Linked DNA regions of Homo sapiens: region 1 is linked to region 2. The links come from fine-mapping of genetic effects on plasma protein levels. A gene starts in region 2. The other region holds a variant in brackets. All regions are shown on one strand. Distances are between the middles of the regions. Region 1 has its middle 19 kb from the start of CHI3L1. Region 2 holds the start of CHIT1 (chitinase 1).

What was found. A credible set is the group of variants that fine-mapping cannot tell apart. PIP is the chance, under the fine-mapping model, that this variant and not a neighbour inherited with it causes the effect. Sun 2018 read protein levels with aptamers (SomaScan).
Region 1: its variant is the best candidate, but not a certain one, in a credible set for the plasma level of the CHIT1 protein (Sun 2018, PIP 0.90).

What each region holds. Positions count from the first base shown.
Region 1 is chr1:203,199,416-203,211,355 of GRCh38, reverse strand. No RefSeq gene overlaps it. Among named protein-coding and RNA genes, the nearest start is that of CHI3L1, 19 kb to the right of the region's middle. The variant C/G (reference allele first, on the strand shown) is at 5,814.
Region 2 is chr1:203,224,533-203,236,472 of GRCh38, reverse strand. CHIT1 (chitinase 1) reads left to right here and starts at 6,800. Exons shown (of 11, transcript NM_003465.3): 1 at 6,800-6,861; 2 at 7,911-7,940; 3 at 10,603-10,804; 4 at 11,369-11,425. The coding sequence starts at 6,837.

The sequences.
Region 1 (11,940 bases), 25 kb after region 2:
CAATCTGACATATGAAGTTTGAGCATCTACTGCAAAGCAAATACCACTTTTTATAACAAGACTTTCTCTCTGTTCCCACCAGACTGCCCTGTCAGCCCCACACACCTTAATTATAAACTAGGTCATGTAAGCTTGCATGGCCTTTGAAGACAGGCACAAATACTGCTTGAACTGTTACAGTGTGTTTGACATTGAGCAATACAGTTTGAAAGGAATTTGGGGCTATTTACTTTTTGGTGGCTTAACCCACTAATGTCTGGCCACCTTCCTTAACAGTGATGACCACTCTTCACCCATAAAGAAGAGGCCCCTGTATTCTTCTCTCTCATAGCATTCATTGTTACATCTGACACACCTGCTGGAACCCCAGACAAATTTGGCTCCCCCCTTGGCTGGTCAGATCGGGGACCAAACTGTCCATCACACCCTACCTGGAGCAGTGAGAGCTGAAACTCTTTATCATTTTAATTTTGTCTCCATTGTAAAATATACCACATTATACCAAATAGTGTTCAAAACATATATGTTCAGGAACTCTTATGAATCCCTCACCCAGGTAAGGAAACAACATTAGCAGCCTCTGATGAACAGTGACTGATGTGCCCCTCCCTAATCCCATAGCCCTCTAACTAGATTTTGGTTATTCCTTTTCTTGTTTTTCTTGTAGTTTTACCAGCTAGGTGTGCATTTTTAAATAAAATTGTTTAGTTTGCACTAGTTTTGAAACTTACATAAATGGAATCACACTGTATGGTATCTTCTGTGGCCCAATGCTCCACATGACTGTAACTCATTTTCACTACTGTATAGTATTCCATCATAAGAGTATGCCATGACTTACATATTTCACTGTCAACAGGCATTTGGGTTGTTTCTAGATTGTGGCCAATGTGGACAATATTGCTATAAACACTCTTGAGGATGTCTCCTAGTGCATATGTGTAGAATATGCCTAGGAGTAGAATTAATGGGATGTGAATTATGTGCTTGTTCAATTTTACCAGGTGCAGGCAACGTGTTTTCCCAAAGCGGTTGTGTAACTTTTCCCTCCCGTCAGCAGAATTCTCTTGTATCCCATCCTCACCATTACCATATCATACTTTATACCAGTTTGAGAGATGTAAAATGGTATCCCGTTAGAGTTTCAACTTGCATTGTCCTAATTACTCATTATAGTTTCAGCATCTTTTCCTATACCTATAAGCAATATGTGTTTGTCTTTTGTGAATAGTCCAATGTGTCTCTTGTCATTTTTCTATTGGGTTGTTTATATCTTTCTTACTGAAATGTAGGCGTTCTTTCCATGCTCCGAACACAAATCCACTCATGACTGCAGGTTTGGCTAAATCTTCTGGGTTGAGGCTTGGCTTTTCATTCTCCTTAGGTGCCTTTAATGTAGTCAGATTTACCAATCTTATTCTTTATGGTTTTTACTTTCTGTATCTTGAGAAATTTTTCTCTAGTCTGAAGTCAAGAGCTATTTTCCTATATTATCTTCTAAAAGTTTTGTAGCTTTTTTCCCACTTAAGCCTTTAGTCTTACTGAAATTGCCATTTAAATATGCTGTAAGGTTGTATCTAATTTTTTTTCTATACGGATAACTGGTTATTCAAGCACTATTTATTGAATAATCTATCCCTTTCATACTAACCTACAATACCATCCCTGAAACAAATTATGTTTCTGTACACACATGGGAATCTTTCTGTTCCATTGGTGTATTTTTCTTTTGCTGCCCCAATAACTCACTATCTTAATTACTAAAGCCTTATAATAAATCCTGATATTTATTACAGCAAATCTTTATACTGTGTTCTTTGTTTCAGAAATGTCTTGGATGTTCTTAGCTCTTACTTTTCCATGTATATGTTAGAATTATATTGCCAAATTCCATTAAAAATTCTGTCCAGGTTTTGATTATAATTGCACTGAATCTATAGATTGAGAAGAATTGGCATCTGTATGATATTAAGTCTCCTTATCTAAAAACATGGTATATCTGTTTAGTTGTCTTCTACTGCTTTTTTTAATGTTTTCTATTTATAATAGAGGCAGGGTCTCCCTATGTTGCCCAGGCTGGTCTCGAACTCCTGGCCTCAGCTTCCCAAAGTACTGGGATTACAAGTGTGAGCCACTGTGCCTGGCCCTAGTTGTCTTCTTAAATATATTTTGATAAAATTTTATAAATTTTTTCTTAAAGGTCTCATACATCTTTTATTAGATTTATTCCTAGGTATTTTAAATTTTTGATTACGGTTATAAATTTTATCCATGGTAAAAATTAAATTTTCTAACCAACTGTTGTTGGTGTATGGTAATGCCACTTTTGTATGTTGATGTTGTATCCAGCAACTTTTCTAACTCTCTGATTAAGTTTGATGATTATTGTTCTGCAAATTCTGCACAGCATTCTATGTAGGTAGTCATGTCATATCATCTGCAGAAATAAGTTTTGTTTCTTCCATTCTAAACCATATAACTTTTGTTTATTTGTCTTGCAAACTGCTCTAAGACATCCAGTACAGTGGTGAGTGTAAGCAGTGATAATGGACATTTTTGTCTTGTTCTTGGCCTGAAAGAGGATGCTTTCAATATTTCAGTGTTAAATATGCCATTTATTGTAGGTTTTGCATAGATGCCTTTAACAAGACTAAAGAAGTCCTTCTACTCCTAATTTGCCAGGAGTTTTTATGAGAATGGATGTAAGTTTTGTCATATGGTTTTCCATTTATAAATTTTTGCTTTTATTCTGGTAATAAATCATATTCATTTTCCCCTGTTAAATTCATCTTACATTTCTAGGATTGAGCCAGCTTGGTCATGCTATATTAATTTTTTTTTGTAATTTGCTGGATTAGTTTTTTTTTTTCACATTTTCACACATATGTTAGTGAGTAAGATGGACCTGCATGTTTTCTTTCTTACACTCTAGGAAGTCCTCACCACCTCCAGCTGTTGTCCAGGCCAATAATAAACTGATCTGGGGTATCAAGATTCTGGGATATCAAGCTGGGAAGGTCCCCTCATTCTATTTTTTGATAGATGTGTTAAAAGGACTTATCTGCTCCTTGAACATTTGGTAGCAGTCACCAGTAAAGCCATCAGCTCGATGCTTTTTTTAAGGATAATTTTTAACCACTGATTTAGTGTCTTTGTTGGCTACAGGGCTATTGCATTTTCTATTTTCCCTCTAGTAGGTAGAAAGCTGAAACTCTCTGTCCCTTCTTAGGCCAAGATCCTCCTCTTTCTCCCCAAATGGTACTGAGGGTGGTAGGAAGTGGCATTAGAGCTTGCTTTTGTCTTACTCAGAACTCAGCATCTCTGTTTCCTGTGCAAGAGCCCTTATTTGACATAAAATCAAGGTAGTGGCTAGTGCTCTCTCCCTCCCATCTGTCCCTCTTAAGTGTCCCTGGAGAGGGATAGAGCAGATGCCATAAACCTGTGGTTTTCCCAGAAGTCGCTGAGTGACACCAGATTGTTGAAAGTGCCACGAATAATTAAGAACCTTCTGGGGAGGTTGTTCATCTTGAGGCACTGCCCTCACTTCTCTCACTGAAGGAATCCACAGATTCCCCCAGGGATCTCCAGAGGATCCAGGCTCAATAAACCTGCTCCCTCCATTCTTCCCTCCTTCTTTCTTCTCCCCTGGCTCCATGTCCCCTCCCACAGGTACAGCCTTTCCCTACATTGTGTTAAAGCAAACTAACTACGGCCTGAGAAGGACTCCATACTTCCATATTTGGGTCCTTGTGGATGAACTGTAACCTAGCTTAATAGTCAGACAAAATTGAAAACCTAACTTAGTAGTGTGCACCTGTAACAATAGCTGAGTGTTGGCCAATCCCAGCAGCCATACTTCAATTACTGATATGCTGCTGAATGTTCAAACTACATTCAAATAAGGCAAACGCCAAGTTGTAACCAATCTCCCGGTTTCTGTGCTTCCCTTCCAATTCCTGTACTTCACTTTTTCTTTTTTGTCTGTAAATTTGTTCTGACCACGAGGCACCCCTGGAGACTCTGAATCTGCTGTGATTCTAGGGGCTGCCCAATTTGTGAATCGTTCATTGCTCAATTAAACTCAATTAAACTCCTTAAACTCTTTCAGCTGTAGTTTGTTTTTTGTTTGTTTGTTTGTTTGTTTTGTTTGACACAAAGTCTCACTCTCTCGCCCAGGCCGGAGTGCAGTGGAGTGATCTCAGCTCACTGCAACCTCCGCCTCCCAAGTTCAAGTGATTCTCCTGCCTCAGCCTCCTGAGTAGCTGGGATTACAGGTGCGTGCCACCACACCTGGCTAATTTTTGTCTTTTTGGTAGAGGTGGGGTTTCACCATGTTAGCCAGGCCGGTCTTGAACTCCTGACCTCAGGTGATCCACCTTCCTTGGCCTCTCAAAGTGCTGGGATTACAGGTATGAACCACTGCGCCCAGCTGAAGTTTTTCTTTTATCAATTGTAAATGCCATTGAAGATGCCGCTTTTCCTACAGTATAAAGCTCTCACATGGGAAATGCATGTCCCTTGACTCTAGGGCCTGGTGTTGCTGAGTTTGGGGGGAACTGAAGGGGATCCTGGCTAAGAGAGCAGCTCCATCTGAGATGCAGAATGAAAAAGGTGACAAAGCAGTAGACAGGGGTGCGTCTGAAAGGTTGGTGGAGCTGGGTGCAGCTGCAGGGTCTCCCGGCAACCCCCTCCTCCACACCGTGCTTTTCCTAGGCCTCCTCCCCAGATGCAACCTCCTGGTCTAGGGTAGATTAACTACTAACAAGCGCTCTTTATGCTCATTCAGTCTCTTCCTGTTAGTAATGCCCATTTCCCCTTGTTCAGAGCTTGGTGCCAAGAGAAAGTAGCCAGATCCCTCTTAATTAATTCAGGCATTAAGGCAACAAATGTATTTCAAATATATCTCAAGGAAAGAAACAACCCTTCCAAAGGCCCACATTGACATTTGTCTTGGGCCTCGCCTCATTTTGCTCAGGGTGGGAGTGAGGAAGGGAGAGCATGCAGACATTCCTTTCATTCCTTGGCCCCCACCACAGGCATGTGGGATCTTGGGGGCTTAGGATGGCCCCAGCCCCACCCACTCCCTCCTCCAGGGTGTCCTTGCCATTCCCAGCTGTCACCCGGGCCAATAATAAACTGATGAGGCCAGGCAAGCAGAAGCCCAGGCTTAGGTGAGGGCACCTCCCAGTCCCCCTACCCACTCAGCAGCTCCACCCTTGGAGATCACACTCCAAGGGGGGACAGTAAAGGGGTCACCTGAGAAGGGGGGCATCTAGAGGGAAGGGACAAGGACCCGGTGTCCACAACTACTGCCATTACCACTGCTTGTCCTTGGCCTTCGTCTGAAGCAGAGCAGCAGGGACACGGGGGAGCCAGTCCACCCAAACCAGCCCAGACCCACCCGCTGGTGCCCTTATTTCCCTAAGCTCCTTCCTGGCATCTAGAGTAAGATGGCCAAGCTGTAGCCTTAGTTCGTATGACCTTACTTGGGCCTCCTTAGAGGTGGAAACCTCCACCCTCTCCATGTTTAAAGTTAGCTCTCTGTATGCCACATGTGGCTTATCTGTGCCCACGGTTAAGTCCTGGGCTGCCTTCTGCTGCACAACCCAGAGCTACTTCACCCAACCCTGGAGTATGAAGGGACTTGGCTCCATAACATGAGCCAGGACAGGGCTTCATGTTCGACATCTGGGACCCCTAAAGTCAGAGTACAGAAGGAATGTCACCCCACCATCTTCCTACTGCCATCGCCTGGACGCAAATGTGACTTGGTATGGAGGGAAGATCAAGAGGTCTTTGCCCCCTGGACAAGT[C/G]ACTTCTCATCCCAAGTCCTCTGTGTCCCATTGTACAGTCGGCAGGTTGGACTAGATGACCTACTGGCCACAGCTGGCCACTGCCAGCCACTGGGTACCTCTTCTCAGAAAATAAGGAAAGCAAGGGAGGGTCAGAGTCTCCACTTGGCATCAAGCATCACTTCTTCACCCTGATCCCCCATCCAGAAGACTCCTTGCAATATCATCCTGAGCTAAACATGGGGGACTTGCTCTATGGCTTCCTCCTCCTGACACACGTGTATGCATGTGCACGAGCAGACGCACACACACACCCCACCCTTGTGCAACACGCATGCTTGCAGAGGAAACTTGTCCTTTCTTGGCCAAGCACAGGGGCCTGGAACAATGGGAGGGAGGGTGTCTTACATTGCACTTCACACCAGAGCCTGTCCTTACAGATTCCTCAGGATCTCAGTCTGCACTAGCTGACCCCACAGGCCTTCCCTGCCCTTCCACCTTTCGGGTTCCACATCTGCAGCAACCACTGAGCTTCAGCCAGCCAGCGGTGGAGCCAGATGCCCAGGCTGTGCTCCAGAGCATCCCTGCAGTGACTCAGAGGCCACTGACCTTTGAACACATCCAGACCTCCCCTCCCTGCCAGTGGAGAGATCTCCCAGCACACCAGACCCTAAATGCCTTGAGACAATCTCTTTCTAATCCCTTAATCCAGTGGTGGGAGCCATTTTCTATTAAGGGGCAGTGACCTCAGTGGAAAATCATAATCATACAAGGGCCACATCACTGTATAAAATTACTGAAGTTTGATGTGGCTGCTGCTGTTTCTTTTTAATTAGGAAAGATGTATAAAACATTCAGAACACCTGATTTTTAAAGGAAGACAAAACCATGCAAAATAAACATGATCAATATGTTAGAATATGTTTTCCAAATTGAAGGCAGTTGAGATGGTGTGACTTAAAAGAATGTAAAGGAAAGAAAGAGTGAGAAATTGTGGTAGGAAAAGGAGAAAGACTAGAGAAAAATAAGGAAAACGTGAAGGGCAGGAAAGGGCAGGCCAGTGGAAAGGAGAGGGAAAGAGGGTGATGAGGTTAGGAGCAGCAAGGAGGGCTCGTTAGGCCCAGCTGCTGGGTCATTACTTTCTGCTCCATGCTTCTGGTCAACCCTGATCTTGTAAGGCTGGTTTTCAGATTATTACCTGGATTGTAGGCTACCATTTACACAAAGTCATTTGGTAGATGCTCATTTCTATTATACCATTTCATCTTTGCAAGAACTCTAAAAACTAGGCTTGAGAAAAGTAAGACCTAGAAAAGTTGCCCAAGCTCACACACCATAACAATTGGCCAGGACTCCAATTCATCCGCAGATCAAAGCTTCTGCTGTTGATACTATACCATTTGTATTGTCTACCTTGCCATTATCTTCCTATTGAACTGTTGATTATCTTTGTTCATTGCCCCCTTGATCACCATGAGGCAATGAACAAATGATCCAGCTACTCTTTCCTTCTTTCTGTTTTCTGAACCCATTAAACTCGTCCCATCTCTATTCCCCACCTGCCCTGACCTCAAAACTTGGTCTGATCTATTCTTGCTTCCTGGGCTTGGTTTTCCATGCCCAGATCTTCCCATAGCAGCCCAGCTTACCCTTCAGGTCTCCCCTTAAGCATCACTTCTTCAGAGAGTCCTTTCAACCACCTCCCTGTCACTCTCTCACATCACTCCAAATTGTTTATTATCATGGCACTTACTGCTGCGCGGTGTTTTTTGTTTTGTTTTGTTTTTTGTTTGTTTGTTTGTTTGCTGTTGACTATCCGTCTTTCTGAGCTAGAAGAGAAACTCCATGTGACCAGGACTTTATCAGCCTTGTTTGTTACTATATCTCCGGAATCTAATACTACTTCTGGCAAATAGTAGATGCTTAATATGTGTTTGTTGAATGAACGAGTGAATAAATGAACTGCTCTCTATCCCCTTTATAGACTCTGCTCCTAGCTGTTAGTGGTACTTTTTTGTACAGAACCAACAAATCAATCCCTAGGTTGCATTTCCCATATCAATCAGCTCAAATTCTCCTTCTACAATTCTAATCAAAACTCATCCATTCCACAAGCATGTCCAAGCTCTTGGCTGAGACTGTGGATGAAGATAAATGAGATTTGACTCCAGATTCAAGGCCTGAGCTTCTGGAGTTTATAGAGTCTAGAAGAGAGGGGATAAGGCATGCCCACAAAGTATTATAATTCAAGATTAAATGAGTCATAAACAATTAAAAAAGAACAAATTAAATATGTTCAGAGGAAATTTCCTCTGGTTGGATGATCTGTGGGGACCCTAACGTAAAGAAACAACAGAACTGAGATCGAGTTTTGAATGAGGGTTCAGACCTCACTGCAGTCTCAGGCAGTCAGCCATGAGACTCAGAGCCATGACCTCAGATTGAGGGCCAGGGTGTGTCCAGACTGGACCAGGCACGCGAAGACCCGGGAGGCAGGAGGGGATAAGGATGGAGAGAGGCTGAGGCCAAACGGTCCAGGTTTGTGGACTGCACATAGCCATGGGAGAGAGCGAACTGAGTGGGCACCATGACCCAGGCAGCAATGTAAACCAGCAGCCCAGCCGCTGCACTTGCAGCTGACAGGAGGGAAGGGGGTTCGTGCAGGACCCTCACCCACAAACCCAGGGGGTTAACCAAGTTTCTGTCTAAGAAGTTCAGCAGGGCAGATTTCTCTCCTTTCTTAGTAATGTGAAATGTAAGCTGGTCAACAGGCATGATTTCTCAACAGCAGGAAATGAAGCAACTGTTTTGGAGACAGCATCCCTCCCTGATGGAGGGCAAGGCTTCAGGCTGTGGTCATTTTCCTGTCAAGTTAATCCTAGTTGTAGAAAACACATCTCCTGAGAAGGCTGGCCTGTCAGGGAAGGGGTGGAGACCTGGAGGCCTGGGGTAGGAATGGGAATGAGGAATGAGCAGGGCTCCATGTTGTTACTCATGAGCGGTAGGGGCTCTGCTGGAAGAAGATCGGGCAGTGTGGAGAAACTGGAGGCGGACTAGGAGGTGGGGTGGGAGGCTGGCGGCGAGCGGAAGGGAAGGATGGGCAACAAGCTTCAAGGGGACTTGGAGGTCTCAGGGAAGGATGCCAGACCTGGAATAGTTCCCAGCCTCTGCCTCTTTTCTTTTTTATTTTTCGACAGAATCTTGCTCTGTCGCCCAGGCTGCAGTGCAGTGGCGAAATCTCGGCTCACTGCAATCTCTGCCTCCCAGGTTCAAGCGATTCTCCTGCCTCAGCCTCCCAAGTAGCTGGGATTACAGGCACCGACCACCATACCCAGCTAATTTTTGTATTTTTAATAGAGACGGGGTTTCACCATGTTGGCCAGGATGGTCTTGATCTCTTGATGTCGTGATTTGCCTGCCTTGGCCTCCCAAAGTGCCAGGATTACAGGCATGAGCCACCGCGCCTGGCCCTCTGCAACTTTTCTCTCCATCTTTCTGAGGCCCATGGCCCCTCCCAGACTCAGTCATAGCCCTAGCTTCTGGGACCTGGGACCACAGTCATTTCTTCTAGTTCCTTCTCCTGGGCCCATCTTTACCATATTATATTGTAAGTATTGGCTCAACAACTGCCTTCTACATAGACCCTGGGCCCATTGAGGGCAAGGGCCCTGTCCCCCTCCTCTGCTGGCCCTAGCACCTGGCAGACTGGGGCTGAACCTGCAGGGCCTGTGGATGTCGGGCTGAATGATATAGTTGCCGTTGTACCTTCTGGGTCTCTTCCACCACCTGATCTCTAAATGTCAGGATGCCTCAGGGCTCAGGCATGGGCTTCTGCCCTTCTTGCTCTACGTGAACTCATCCGTTCCCATGGCTTTAAATAGCATCTTGACACCAATGACTGTATCCGCAGCCTAGACCTCTCCTCCAAGCTCCAGATGCATGTATCCACCAGCCCGCTTGCTCTCTCTACCCAGATAAGGCATAAACAGTTCTTTAATATGGCTGAGACAGACCCCCTACTCTAAAACTTATCTCCACCCCATGAATTCCTCACATTAAACAATTAGCACAACCTTGTCCACCTTGCTAAAGGTAGGACCCCCTGGGTGGTTCCTGGTCCCTCTATTCCCTCATCCTTTTACATCCAACTCATCTGTAAGTGTGCGGATGTTCCCTCCAAGGAATGTCCATAGTCCACCCTTCTTTCCACCTCCACGTCCCCAGCCCAGGGCAGGCCACCGCATCTCTTGCCTGGACCTCTTTAACAGCTGCTTATGTTCATGCCTCTTCCACTCTTGCCATACCACAAATCTATTCCCTACAGAGCCACTAGAGTGACTTTCCAAAACATAAACTCTATCCTGGACTACCTGCTTAAACATCCAGTGGTGTCCCATTGCACAGAGGACAAAACCCCTCTGTGGTTTCCACAGGCCCCAGGACACAGACCTGCCTCTCTCCCCGGGGCCTCTTGTCTCTCCCCACATCCCCAAACTACTCTAGCCAGCTGGTCAGCTTGCTTGTGCTTTTCTCTTTTTTTTTTTCCAACACACTAAGCTCTTTCTCACCTCCAGGACTTTGCATATGGTGTTCTCTGCCTGGATCATTTTCTCTCTTCTTGAGGTAGCTGACTCCCTCTCATCCCTCAGATTTCTGCTTAAGATCACCTCCTCGGAGAAGCCTCCCTGACTGTCCTAACTAAAGGAGGTTCCACTCCTCACTCTCCCCACCCTAGCCCAGGACTTGGCACCTAATAGGGGCTCAGTAACTCTTTCCTGAAAGAATGAACACATGCTGCCCTTAGTCCCTGGCAGACTCCTGTGAGCTCTTTAGTTTATCCTTCTAAGCCACCAAAGATTCACTCTCCTTTCCGCTTATTTTTACGTTTTCTCAAAACTTTCCTCATAAACACCATATTGTTGAGTTTCTTTCTCTCCCTAAAATAGCTGCAGAACTGGACAAAGACTGGCTATCTGCTTCCTAGCTGTCCCTTTCAGTTTCAGGGTTTATGTGCTAGTCATTGCAGGGGAGCAGTGGGGAGAATGGAAAATTACCAACAAGGAGAAGTGGCAGAATCCAGGGACTGACCGTGTTCTTACACCCGTGGTCCTCAGTCTATAGTTAGCTTCTGACTTCCTTTCTTGGCAAGATCTATACCAGCTATCTAGGACAGTCCCAGTTTCAACTGTTCTGTCCTATTGTCCCACTGTGTTTCATGAATTTTCTTACAATATTGGCTCTCTCTCTTTTTCCTCCCACTCTCCTTTTATCCCATGAGGGCAGCCTTACTTAAACAACCCTCGCACTCAGTGTTGAAAGAGCTGAATTCAGTTCAAGTCTTGCTCAACCACATAAAATGTGCACGACTTTGGGCAAAGCACTGATCCTCTCTCAGCTTCCGTTTGCTCACCTACTGAGAGGGATAAGGCCAACACCTCCATTCCAGCATTCGGCAGGGCGGGTTGTGACTGGAATAGCATGTGTTGGGCACTTGGCACCCATAGCAAGTCTCCCTTGCCCCTCAGGATGAATAATGGAGTGAATTAGTCTTTCAGCCAAAAGACTCTGGGCTCCAGAGAGTAATGTAATGCTTTACCCAAACAGTGGAAGTGTGGAAGTGATGTGGATGTTGGGGGACTGTTATATTCTCTCGGTTCAGCTGTGGCCTGAGTGATGAGTCAGGTCATGTCTGTAGATAGAGAGCTCTGTCTCCACAAAGAGGAGGTGCCCAGCTCCAATCCCTGGGGAAAGGTTGTATCTTTATTGGAAACCAGAGCTCAGAAGACTAGCCTTAGGGAGATGGAAGAGGGCCCCGACTTGGGAGCAGGGGTGCATCTTTCAACAGGGGTCCCTAAACAGATGGCGCCCTCCGTATGGAATCAGGAGTCGAGCATAGCTTGAACGTCTGACTGTCCAGGACCCACCTCAAAGCGTGCACTTCCCCTGCCTCACCCTCAAGCCTCCCCTGAGTCTTATCTGAATGCCTTGGCTCAGGCTCTGCTTTTCAGGGGGAGGACTGTGCCACCTCCTGGGCCAGAGTGTTAAGGGGTGACCAGTGCCCCTGAGACCACCTTGGCTACAACCTCTCAAGGGAAATGTGCATCTTGGTGAATCCGAGGGACAGGGTAGGGATCATGCAATCCAGCTG
Region 2 (11,940 bases):
ACCTAGTTGTTCAGGAGGTCAAGGTTGTTCAGGCTGGTCTCAAACTCCTGAACTCAAGAAATCCTCCTGCCTCTGCACCCCAAAGTGCTGGGATTTCAGGCATAAGCCACTGCACCCAGCCTAGTTAATGGACTTTTATGCAGGCTTCCCCACATAAGCATGATTACGTGGTCTTCAGCCCCACTCCCCTTCCCAGAGGATGGGGGGTGGAGCTGAAGGTTCCAAACTTCTCATCATGGCTTGGTCTTTCTGGTGACCAACCCCCCTCCAGATGCCCACAAAGAGGCACCTCTTTGGAACAAAAGATGCTCCTAGTACCCAGGAAGTTCCAAGGGCTTAGGAGTTCTGTGTCAAAACTAGGGTCAAAGGCTAAACATTAGAACAAGAGATGCACCTAGAACCCCTATTTCTCAAGAAATTTTAAGGGTTTTAGGAGCTCCGTGCCAGAAATTGGGGACAAAGACCAAATATACATTTCTTATATCACAATATCATAGTGGGCCAGATCATGCAGAGAGGTCACATTAATTAATTAATTAATTCAATAGATATGGATTAAGCACCTACTATGTGCTGGGAAATATTCTGGGTACTAGACAAAGAGGACTAAACAAGAAAAGTCCCTCCTCTCATGAAGCTTACATTCTAGTGGTAGGAAACAGACACTACACACAAATGAATGAATGAATGAATGAATTCAGCCATGAAAGTACTTAGGAGAAAATAAATCATCAGGAGAGAACAGAGAGTGACTTGAGGGGAGGGCACTACTTTCTATGAGTGGTCAGGAAAAGCATGAATGAGGAGAAGGAGCCAGCTGTGTGAAGATCACAGAGAAGAACATTGTGGGCAGAGGCAATGGCAGGTGCAAAGGTATCAGGAGAACCCGCCCCTGAATATTCAACGTGGGCCCTTTTCTATTTTTCCTAAGTGTCAGTCGGTCTGAGAAATAAAGGGAAAGAGTACAAAAGAGAGAAATTTTAAAGCTGGGTGTCCGGGGGAGACATCACATGTCAGCAGGTTCCATGATGCCCCCCAAGCTGCAAAACCAGCAAGTTTTTATTAGTGATTTTCGAAAGGGGAGGGAGTGTATGAATAGGGTGTGGGTCACAAAGATCACATGCTTCACAAGGTAATAAAATATTACAAGGCAAATGGAGGCAGGGCGAGATCACAGGACCGGGGCGAAATTAAAATTGCTAATGAAGTTTCGGGCATGCATTGTCATTGATGACATCTTATCAGGAGACAGGGTTTGAGAGCAGACAAGCGGTCTGACCAAAATTTATTAAGCAGGAATTTCCTCATCCTAATAAGCCTGGGAGTGCTACGGGAGACTGGTGCTTATTTCATCCCTTATCTACAACAGTAAAAGACAGATGTCCCCAGAGCGGCCATTTTAGAGACCTCCCCCTAGGAATGCATTCTCTTTCTCAGGGATGTTCCTTGCTGAGAAAAAGAATTCAGCGATATTTCTCCTATTTGCTTTTGAAAGAAGAGAAATATAGCTCTGTCCCACCTGGCTGTCAGGCAGCCAGACCTAATGGTTATCTCCCTTGTTCCCTGAACATCGCTGTTATCCTGTTCTTTTTTCAAGGTGCCCAGATTTCATATTGTTTAAACAATTTATGCAGTTAACGCAATCCTCACGGAGTCCTGAGGCAACATACATCCTCAGTTTACAAAGATGGCGGGATTAAGAGATTAAAGTAAAGACAGGCATAGGAAATCACAAGAATATTGATTGGGGAAGTGATAAATGTCCATGAAATCTTCACAATTTATGTTCAGAGATTGCAGTAAAGACAGGCGTAAGAAATTATAAAAGTATTAATTTGAGGAACTAATAAATGTCCATGAAATTTTCACAATTTATGTTCTTCTGCCATGGCTTCAGCCGGTCCCTCCGTTCAGGGTCCCTGACTTCCCGCAACATCTCTCCCTTTCTTTTTATATAAATGTGCCATGGCGATGAAGGCTTGTTCATTCTCTCGATTTTGATGCAGGATTCTTTGACTTGTCTGACACACTAAAGACAAGCTGGTTAAACAGAGAAACATAATTCCAAAATTTACTAGAGTGGGGCCTCCAATAGACTTAATCAAAGTCGTGGGGTTTAGTCCATAAAGATTTTCTGCCACCTGATCTAACGCCTCAGCTCCAGGCACAATGGATAAGTGAGCCTGAGAGGCTTCAAAAATTTGTTTTTTTAATTTAGTTATGTCCAGTGATAAATTATCTTCCCTGCCAAGAAGGTGTCCTTTGAAAGAACATTGTCCTAATGAAAGAATAGAGTTAGAGTGTTCTAGAGGTAGAGTTAAGGAGTTGATATTTTATTTTAAGTGGGAACCATTGCAAGGTCTTAGCAGGAAAGCAACAGGATCTGATTTAAGTTTCTCAAAGTGTACTCTGGCTGCTGTGTGGAGAATGGATTGCAGAGGCAAGAGAATTAGGAAGGAAGGCAGGTAGGAGGCTCTTCTGGGGACAGGGTGGGAGTTGACGGTGGTTAGGAGGTGGAGGAGATGGAGCAGGAGGCAGGATGTCTAATAGGTCCTGATCATTGAGGGTGAGGAAAGGGAAGGATCAAGGACACTTCCTGGGTGACTTGGAGACCCGGATAGGTGGTGATGTCTTTTACTGCTAAGGGGAAGAACACGGTGGGACGTGGGAAGGAACAGTTAACAAACATTAATTGAAGACCCCCTGTATGCTTGGTGCTGAGGGACACATAGAGAGGTGTGGAGAGAGGCCCCACTCTGCCTGGCTATGGACAGTCCAGCTACAGAGATGAGATGCTCACATGAAGCAAGAGAAAAAGGTGTGATACCAACCATCAAGATGCAGTCCCATGAGATCTGGCTGGCGTCCTCCCACCTACAAAGCCCTCTCACACATTATCTATTCGATCCACATCATTACCAAATAAGATAGGTAGTATTATCCCCATTTTACAGATGAGAAAACCAAGGCTTGGAGAGGCTGTGACTAGCCCCAGCTCAGCCAGCCAGGTTGGATGCAAATCAGCAGAAGCTTTAGAATTTCTATACAGGCATCTGCTCTGCAGTAGGGTGGGACGGGGACTTGCTTTGAAGCCTCATTTTATATCAAGCACACTGGTTTTACTTGGTTTGGGCTTTGGCAGTGGCTGAGAAAGGGGTGGGAGAAGCCAATGGGGCTGGAAAGGAGAGTATAAAATCTATGAAAGTAATTTATTGGTGATATCCATTGAGATACACCCAGTTCTGTCTGTCTCCAAGCCAGGGTTCTTTCCTATTCTGGATGGAAGGAGTTGTTCCAAGATAGCAGAAGGTAGTATGGAGTACATTGACTGTGGAAGAGGCAAGGCTTAACTCAGAGTGATCTCTGTAGGACTTGAGGGCCAGGGAGGGCAGCCCCAGGAGGGACACAATTTAGGAGCAAAGGTGTGGTGGGCTGTTAATTGAAGTTTGCTGAAGGCATCAGAGACCTCTCAGTTCTACACATGGGCAATCTGTACTGGTGGCTGGGACCTGCCTACTTAGGTGGGAACTCTGGGTCAGTCCCTGGGGAAGGCTCCTCCCCAGCTTTGGTGGACATGGGCCTGCCTTCTGCTCCCAGGTCTCAGCCTCCAGGCAGGGACTTATTCCTTGAAATCTTGCAATTCAGGTCTGGCCATCAGGTGAGCCCAGGATGTGCCCTACTAGACTGAGGCATACTGTAAAATAAATCCAGGCTGGCAAGGCATTGTATCTCTCTCCTCTCCCTCCAGCCATGTCCAGTGCCCTTTTACACAGAGCCCCTCAGCAGAGATCACCCCCACCTGCCTACCTCAACCAGTGGTTCTCAACCGACAGGACACAGAGTTTTTAATGATGTCCCACTGTCCCTGCATGTATCGTGGGCAGTTTCCTCACTGAGAGGCTCCATCAGTGAACATCTGGTGTGTTTGTTATAACTTCCTTCCCTTTCTCTCTTTGTCCAGCAACCTACTTATTCTCAAAGCTCTGTTCAAGCATCACTCCACTGGCTTTCCCACCCCACCCTGGCTGGTGTTTCTCCTTGAGCTCCTTTGCTCCCTGTGCCCACCTTCATTTACCACGTGTCATTTCTGCTGTATATGGTGTGAGGGGCCTAACTTTGATTCTTTCCAGATTGGTAGACAATTAAGTCATTGGCATTTATAAAACATCTTTTTCTTATTCATTTGAACTGCTACCTTCATTGCACACACCCTCTCCATATATGCTCAGACCTACCTCTGTTTGTCTGTCCTGGTGGCAATTCCATGCTATTTTAATCCCAATGGAATTATAATAAGTTTTGTATAGTGTGTCACCATCATTACTGGTTTTGTATTTTAGTTGACAAAAATTGACATTTGTTATGATATTGTTTTCCCGTGCAAGAACATGTTCAGATCCTATTGCAAATTTATATCCTGTGGGTAAGTTTTATAGATTCTACTATTAAACTTATTATTGTTATTAAATTTATTTATAAATATTTTATAGATTTTGACACTTCTGTGAATCAGACATTTCCTTCACTTCTATTTCTAATTGGTTATTGCTAATGTAGAGAAAAGCTATTCATTTTTGTACATTCACCTTAAATCCAGCCATATTACCAAACTCTGTTATTATTTTTGATCTGTTTTTCTAGAAAACCTAAAGACAATAGGGGATGGGGCAGTGTTTGGAGAAACTCAGATTCTGGGCACTGCAGTGCATGTCCTCCTGGGGACATGAGGCATAGCGAGAAATTCATGAAACTGACAGGTCAGTTGTGTATATGGAGGCGGGGGCGAGATAAGGTGGCCCCTAACTCTCCAGAGAAGCCTCTCCTCCCCGAGGCTCAGGACCTCCCAGTCCTCACTCCTGCATCCCACTCTCACTCCCCCACCACCAAGGAGCTGAGGCACCTCTGCACATCTCAGGTGACCCTGAACAGGCTCTTTTGCAGGATCCCCAAGAGAAAGGGCTGACCACAGCAGAAACAGAAGCCATGACTGCAGCAGGGAAAGGGAGGACTTAGGGCTGGTCCATCTGAGTGCTGAGGTCCAACACTCTCAGGGGCCTCGAAGAGGTTACTAGAGCCCTCTGACACCCCTAGACCAGCAGAAGTGGCAGCACTTGGCAGAACCAGGAATAATAGCAGCCACCATGGAGTGCGTTCCCAACAGTCCTCTGAGGATTCCCCTTTACAGATGAAGAAACTGGAGTTCAGGGAAATTAAGGAACTCACTTCAGTTTACACAGATAGTAAATGGCAGAGGAGGAATTCAAACTCAGGAACCTAACTCCACAGCCTGCCGCACCCAATATTCCCACGTGGCCATCTAGGCCATTCATGTTAAGCCCACCGGCCAAAGACTGGATCCCCTAGAAACTGCAGAGCTTTCTCAGGGACCCTGGAGTTCATGCATACACCAGACATTGTCTGCAGACATTACAGTAATATGTGCCCACTTGGGTCCTGTGGTGAATTGAATGGTGACCCCCTCCCACCCCCCGCAAAGGATAACTTCACCTGGAATCTCAGAAGGTGACTGTATTTGTAATAGGGGTCTTTGCAAATGTAATGAAGGTAAAGATCTCAAGATGAGATCATCTTGGATTAGAATGTCCTTCTCAGAGACAGAAAGGAGGGGACATACAGAGACACAGCGAGGAAGGGCGTGTAAAAATGGAGGCAGGCAGAGGCTGGAACGATGCCGTTGCATGCCCAGGAATGCCACAGGCCATCCGAAGCTGGAAGCTGCTGGGAAGTATTCGCCCCTGGAGCCTTCGGAGGAAGCATGGCCCTGCCAACTCCTTGTTTCCAGGCTTCTGACCTCCAGAACTGTGAAAGAATAAACTTCTGTTGTTTCAAATCACCTGTTTGGTGGCCATTTGTTACAGAAGCTCTGGGAAACCGACACAAATGTCCACCATTCTTCTGTTTTTTTTTTTTTGTTTTTTTTTTTTTGATGGAGTTTCACTCTTGTTGCCCAGGCTGGAGTGCAGTGGCGCGATCTCGGCTCACCACAACCTCCGCCTCCTGGGTTCAAGCAATTCTCCTGCCTCAGCCTCCCGAGTAACTGGGATTACAGGCATGTGCCACCATGCCAGGCTAATTTTGTATTTTTAGTAAAGATGGGGTTTCTCCATGTTGGTTAGGCTGGTCTCGAACTCCTGATCTCAGGTGATCTACCTGCCTCGGCCTCTCAAAGTGCTGGAATTACATGTGTAAGCCACCATGCCTGGCCCAAATGTCCACCATTATTATTCTTCATAAGAAACATAGGCATTTCAAGCCATTACCAAACTTATAGTCACTATTTATCATTATCTATTTTTCTCCATCAATGGATATGCAACTATTACTATCATGAAAAGTAAATTATATTTGCAACCCCATTATCTTCTAGATGGAGAAACAGTTTGAGAGAGGGCAGTGGAGAAGCAAGAGAGCTGGTCTGGAACCCAGCTGCCTGACTCGTGAGTCATTTCTCTTCCTCCAAAGCCCTATTAAGTCTGGGGCTGCTTATGGTCCTCACCAACTACACAAAGAAAGTCAGGGTCATGCTCATCCATCAGGAGGTTCAGGGCCACTTCCCGCTTTCCTCTGTTTGGCAACACTAAGAGTCACCCTCTGATTGTTCCAGAAAAGCAAGAATTGCTAAAGGCCATTGTGTCAAGTTTGCCCAATTCATGCTGCTTGACATCTTACCCCTCCCCACCCTGCTCCCATCCCCCCCACCCAGTGCCCCTGATTGCAACACTCCTGGCTGGGGTGGGACAGGGTGGCCAGATAAAAGCAGAGCAGGACCTGGAAAGCTGGTTTGTATGGGCTGCAGCCTGCCGCTGAGCTGCATCATGGTGCGGTCTGTGGCCTGGGCAGGTGAGCCGTCGGATAGTGGGCTGGGTCTCGGGAGCTGTGGGGAGGTGGGGATGTGGATGTTCAGGGACCACTTGCTACCATTTGCAAGGAAGCAGGAGGACTCAGGAGAACTTCAGAGGGTCATTTTATCCCTCTCCATGCCTCCTGGCTTGCAGTCCCTTGATTACCTTTCCTGTGGGCTCCCCCTTAGGCTCTTTCAGCCCAAGAGACTTCATGTTGCAAGGGAAGGCTTTTCTCAACAGGCTGAAGATGACTTGACTTTCCTCTCTCTGTCCTGAAAGCCCAGAGTCAATGAGGCCCCTGCACTGGGTCTTTGTGTCTTTCCCATGTTCTTAGGTCCCTCCTGTTGGCCTTATCCAAGAAGCGCCCACTGCCAAGAACCTCTTCTCCAACCTCATATTGTCTGTCCTGCAAGAGGGCAGCCTGGGGCCAAGATCCTGGGCATCCTTGCAAATTTTCATGGAGGTTCTATTAGGTTGACAGAGAAGTCCAAGGTCACCAGGTGAAAGAGATCTCTTCGAAGGAGTCCTGTCAGACCCTAGGTCTCCAAGGCTGTGGTTGCCTACCACAGCCAGGTAGCGGAAAGGCAACAGGAAGCCATAAACGATGGGAGCAGAGGCACAGGCCCTCCCCAGGAGATGAACTCTCTCCATGCAGCCCTTCCAGATTGATTCTTTCTAGCCCCAAAACAGGCTTGTTTCTTGTTCCGAAAGAGAAACTATCTCTCTAAATAACTCACAAGTCAGCAGTTTTTCCACAATCTTCCTGAATCCACACTGCCCTTTACTGAGGTATAGAGAGGGGGCAGCCTCAGCCCATGGAACTTTCCATCAGCTTCTAGGACCAACCCAGGCCAGGAAGAGACCCCCGTGGTCTGGTCTGCATGAAGGGATGGGCACAGTGCCCTCCTGGGTCCCTTCTGAAAGGAGAAAGCTTGATTTGTATGAAATCAGCCCTCCCTGACCACCTCCTGTGCTTCCGTAAGCTGTGGGGCCTGGGAAGGTGAGAATGGCAGCATAACCCTGGCCTTCTCTCTTGTGTTGCTCCAGGTTTCATGGTCCTGCTGATGATCCCATGGGGTAAGTAGCCTCTTTCTTGGCTGCCTCAGCCCCTTCCCTGGGCTCTGCTTAATGTCCCAAAACACCTTCCCTGCCAGACCTCCCCAAGAGCTCCAGATTTCAGTGGGGACTCTCTTCCAAAGCTCAGACCCCTGCAAATGTCCCCATCTGCTACCAGCCCTCCCAGGAAGGCTCTTGCCTCCTTATCCATTAGCTGAGCTCCTGCACATCTGTGGGGCCAGCTTGCGCATCAGCCTCTTTCAGGGCTTTCCTTTCCTGGGGTTGCTGGCTCCCTCCTCTGCACTCTGTGCTCTTGCAGCACCTGTGTGTTTTACAGTACAGTACTGCCTCTCATTATTGGCTTAGGTGTCTCTCTGCACCAGTCTCAGACTCCAAGTTGCTGCAGGTAAGGAACCTAAGTCTCATCTGGTTCAGCATCCCCAGCCCCTTAGCTCTGCGAGGACAACACACTTGCTTCTGGTCTGTTGAACTGATCAGATGTGGAGCTTGAGAGAGGCAGGAGGGAGCTCCTTGTTGTGTCAAATGGAAAAGAGACCTGGGGGACCTTCAGCAACTTGAACTCCTGGTCCCCGTCTTGTCCCACCCCATTCCCTGGGCATCAGTGGCCTGGGAATGCTGGCCTCTCAGAACTTGTCCTGCGACTGTGCCTCTCACGCTGGGCTGTAGCATTGGAGGTACATTTCCCTCTCAGCCTCATAGGATGGAACAGCCGGGGGCACAGAAACAGCAAACATGGGGAAGATGAGAGGTGGAAGATTTCTCAAAAAGCTTTAGTCCAGGCTACTTCTGGGCTTTCTGCAGTATAGTAATAATAGTAGGACTTTGTGTGGACTAAGGGTTAATATATGTGAAGCACCTAGAACAGAACTTCTTCCTTGCAGTGTTCCTCCGAGTGTTTTACATATATTAACTTTAGCCCACACTGGGGTCCTGTGACACACATTGTGGAAGGTCCAATGGTCTCCCCGTTTCACACAGGAGGAAGCTGAGTCGCACAGCGAGTAAGTTGCAAAGTTGGGATTTCAACCCAGACACTGACATGCCAGAGTCCCTGCTGTTAACCACTGCACTTTATTTTCTCCATAGTACAGAAATTCATAACAATATTTGATATGCGACAGCATGACATGATAGAAAAAGAGCTTCCTGGCTCCTTCCTACATGGCCTGGGGGATGAGTTATCTGGTTTCATCCCCTCCTTCCTTTCTTTTCCTTTGGGGAGTTCACCAATTCTCCTGTATCATTGCAGGCTACACCCCAGCCCCACTAGCAAGCTGCACTCCTGGGTGACCTCTGGTTAGAGACAGTGACCACTCCGGGGCCACGTGTATGCCCAAGGTCAGCCCTCCATGCTCTCGGGTTCTAGTTGAGGCCTGCCTGAGCGGTCTCTTCCCAAAACTCTCCTATAGACACTTTGCACCCCTCCTCTTCCTCGTCCCATCCCTGTCCATGTGGGCATTGGAGGGGGTACAGACAGACCCTGCTGGGGCAAAGGGAAGTCCCAGGTTCTAGACACCAGCCACAGGCACGCTCCAGTCCAAACTCACTGCTCCATCAAGATCTTGGCATAAAATGTTGGCTCATACAAACCACACCATCATAGATTGAGAGACTGGAAGAGACCCCACAGACCACACAGTCATTATCAGATGGGGCCGGGATTGAAGATGAGATAGACCCAAAGTCTATTTTTGGCAGATGCTGGAATGAAGACTAGCATTCTTGCTTCCTGGTGTCCTGGTCAACCCTGCACAGGGCTGACCTCAGTGGGGGTCATCACCACCGAGCCCTCACTGGGAATAGACCATCCCACCCCTGCAAAGTCTTTTCACACACTGTAGGGTACTCTAGAGACAAGTACCCTACAGTGTGTGGGGTACTTAGAGACAAGATGCCTTCTCCTAGATAAAATTAGCTCTATTAGAATCTCAGCAGTGATATTGATAAACGTAGATTATCTACAAGGGATAACAAGCAAATGCAAATGGCTTTAATGCAAGACTAAAGAAACATAAACCCAGGCCTGTAACTGGGGCCTCCTCTCTGCTACTTATCTGTTTGCATTTTAACGAAGTATTCTGAGGTATTCCAAACCGTTTTTGAAAGTTCTGCCTGCCTTCCTTCTGCAGATGAGCATGCCATGTCTAATTCCCTCTAGGCCTCATGTTGGGGCTGCCTGGGGCTACCTTCTGTCAGGTTTCAGGGCCTGGAGGGGAGACCCTAACTGGGGATAGGGAGACCTGCCTGCCAGACCCTGATCCTGGGAGCTCGGACTCTGAGACTAGCAACTTTCAAGGATGTCAAGGAGTCATGAGACTTGGGTCGCAGCACCTCTGCTCTGCCCTCTTAGCAGCCATGCTGATGGGGACGGGCCCCAAGCTCGTGAGCCTCAACTTGCTTCCCGGGAAAAGAAGGCTTAGAAGATGATGGTCCTGCCCACTCAGTGTTCTGAGGATCCCATGTCTGGCCTCTGAAAATGCTTTCCCAACTGCCAGACTCCATCCACACAAAAGCAAATGCCATTTCTGCCTGTCGGGTCCCTCCACTGACTCCAGGTGTAGAAGAGGGAGGTCCAAGGACATTGCCTACCCCAGATGGAGGGTGACCAGTCCCCAGAAGGTCCTGCTGACAGCTATCCCTTTTCTTTACTCCAACGGGCCAGGCTCTGCTGCAAAACTGGTCTGCTACTTCACCAACTGGGCCCAGTACAGACAGGGGGAGGCTCGCTTCCTGCCCAAGGACTTGGACCCCAGCCTTTGCACCCACCTCATCTACGCCTTCGCTGGCATGACCAACCACCAGCTGAGCACCACTGAGTGGAATGACGAGACTCTCTACCAGGAGTTCAATGGCCTGAAGAAGATGTGAGCCAAAGCAGAGGAGCAGGGTGGGTGGGATGTGGTGGGGTGACAGATAACCTCCTCCCAGAGCCAGACACCTCTCCAGCACTAAGGTCCTGCCACAGACCCACTGTGTGGCTTTGGGCAAGTTGTATCACCTCTCTGGGCTCTCCTGTGCTTAATGAAAGAGGTAGGGTTTGCTTAGGGGATCCCAAAGGTCCCTTCCAGTTTAGGTCTAAGTGTGATCAGGATTGTGAGACTCTTTCTGTCTCCCATGAAGCCCCTTCCTCATTATGAAATTGATCCACCCTTCAGCTCCAGTGTTCTGGGCGCCTTCACAAAGCCTCTTGAGAATCTGCCCCAATCCTTGCTTCCTGAGCCCACACAGTTAGACAGGTGGTTCTGTGAGTCAGGAACGTGACTTCCCTTTTCCAATCTACAGCTGTCCCCAGAATGCCTAATACAGTCTCTGCACATAGGCACTTTCACACGTCCCCACCCCTGTTGTTCCTCCCCACTGTAACATCCCTGCCAGGGTGCCCTGGGAGCTGGCAGAGTAAATCCTGCTGTGTCTCCTGTCTTTCCCAGGAATCCCAAGCTGAAGACCCTGTTAGCCATCGGAGGCTGGAATTTCGGCACTCAGAAGTTAGTTGACTGTGGTCACCTGTGTGGTAAAGCTCCTGGATGGGAACCTGGTGCACTGGCCAGAGGGAGCCCTGGTCAGGGAATCAGGCCAGGCTGAGGTGTGGTCAGGGGAAAGGGGAGGGGAGCTGAACTCTGAGGGCTGAATTTCCTTCTGGGTTCTTGGCACCTCAGCTGGAGGGCAGCACAGTGAGCTTTGCTCCAGGCTGTTTCAGATCCAGTCTTGCCAGAAGCATAGGTCTAAACACAGCAGAGGGCTCAGACCTCTCCAAGCCTCAGTCTCGTCTTCCATGAAATGAGAAGAGGGAGGGTCCCAACTAATCCTGACAACATGCAGTGTCTATGTTTTCTGAGCTCAGAAATGGGGTACCTTGTCCCAGAAAGAGTGTTTATTCCACTTCTGAGTACAAAAGGTAATCTGTGAGATTGAGCCTGGATGCCAGAGTATTGGCATTTGGGGGACATTTTTTAAATGATTTATGGAGAAAATGGAATGGAGTATTTGAAACTTGGTGTTT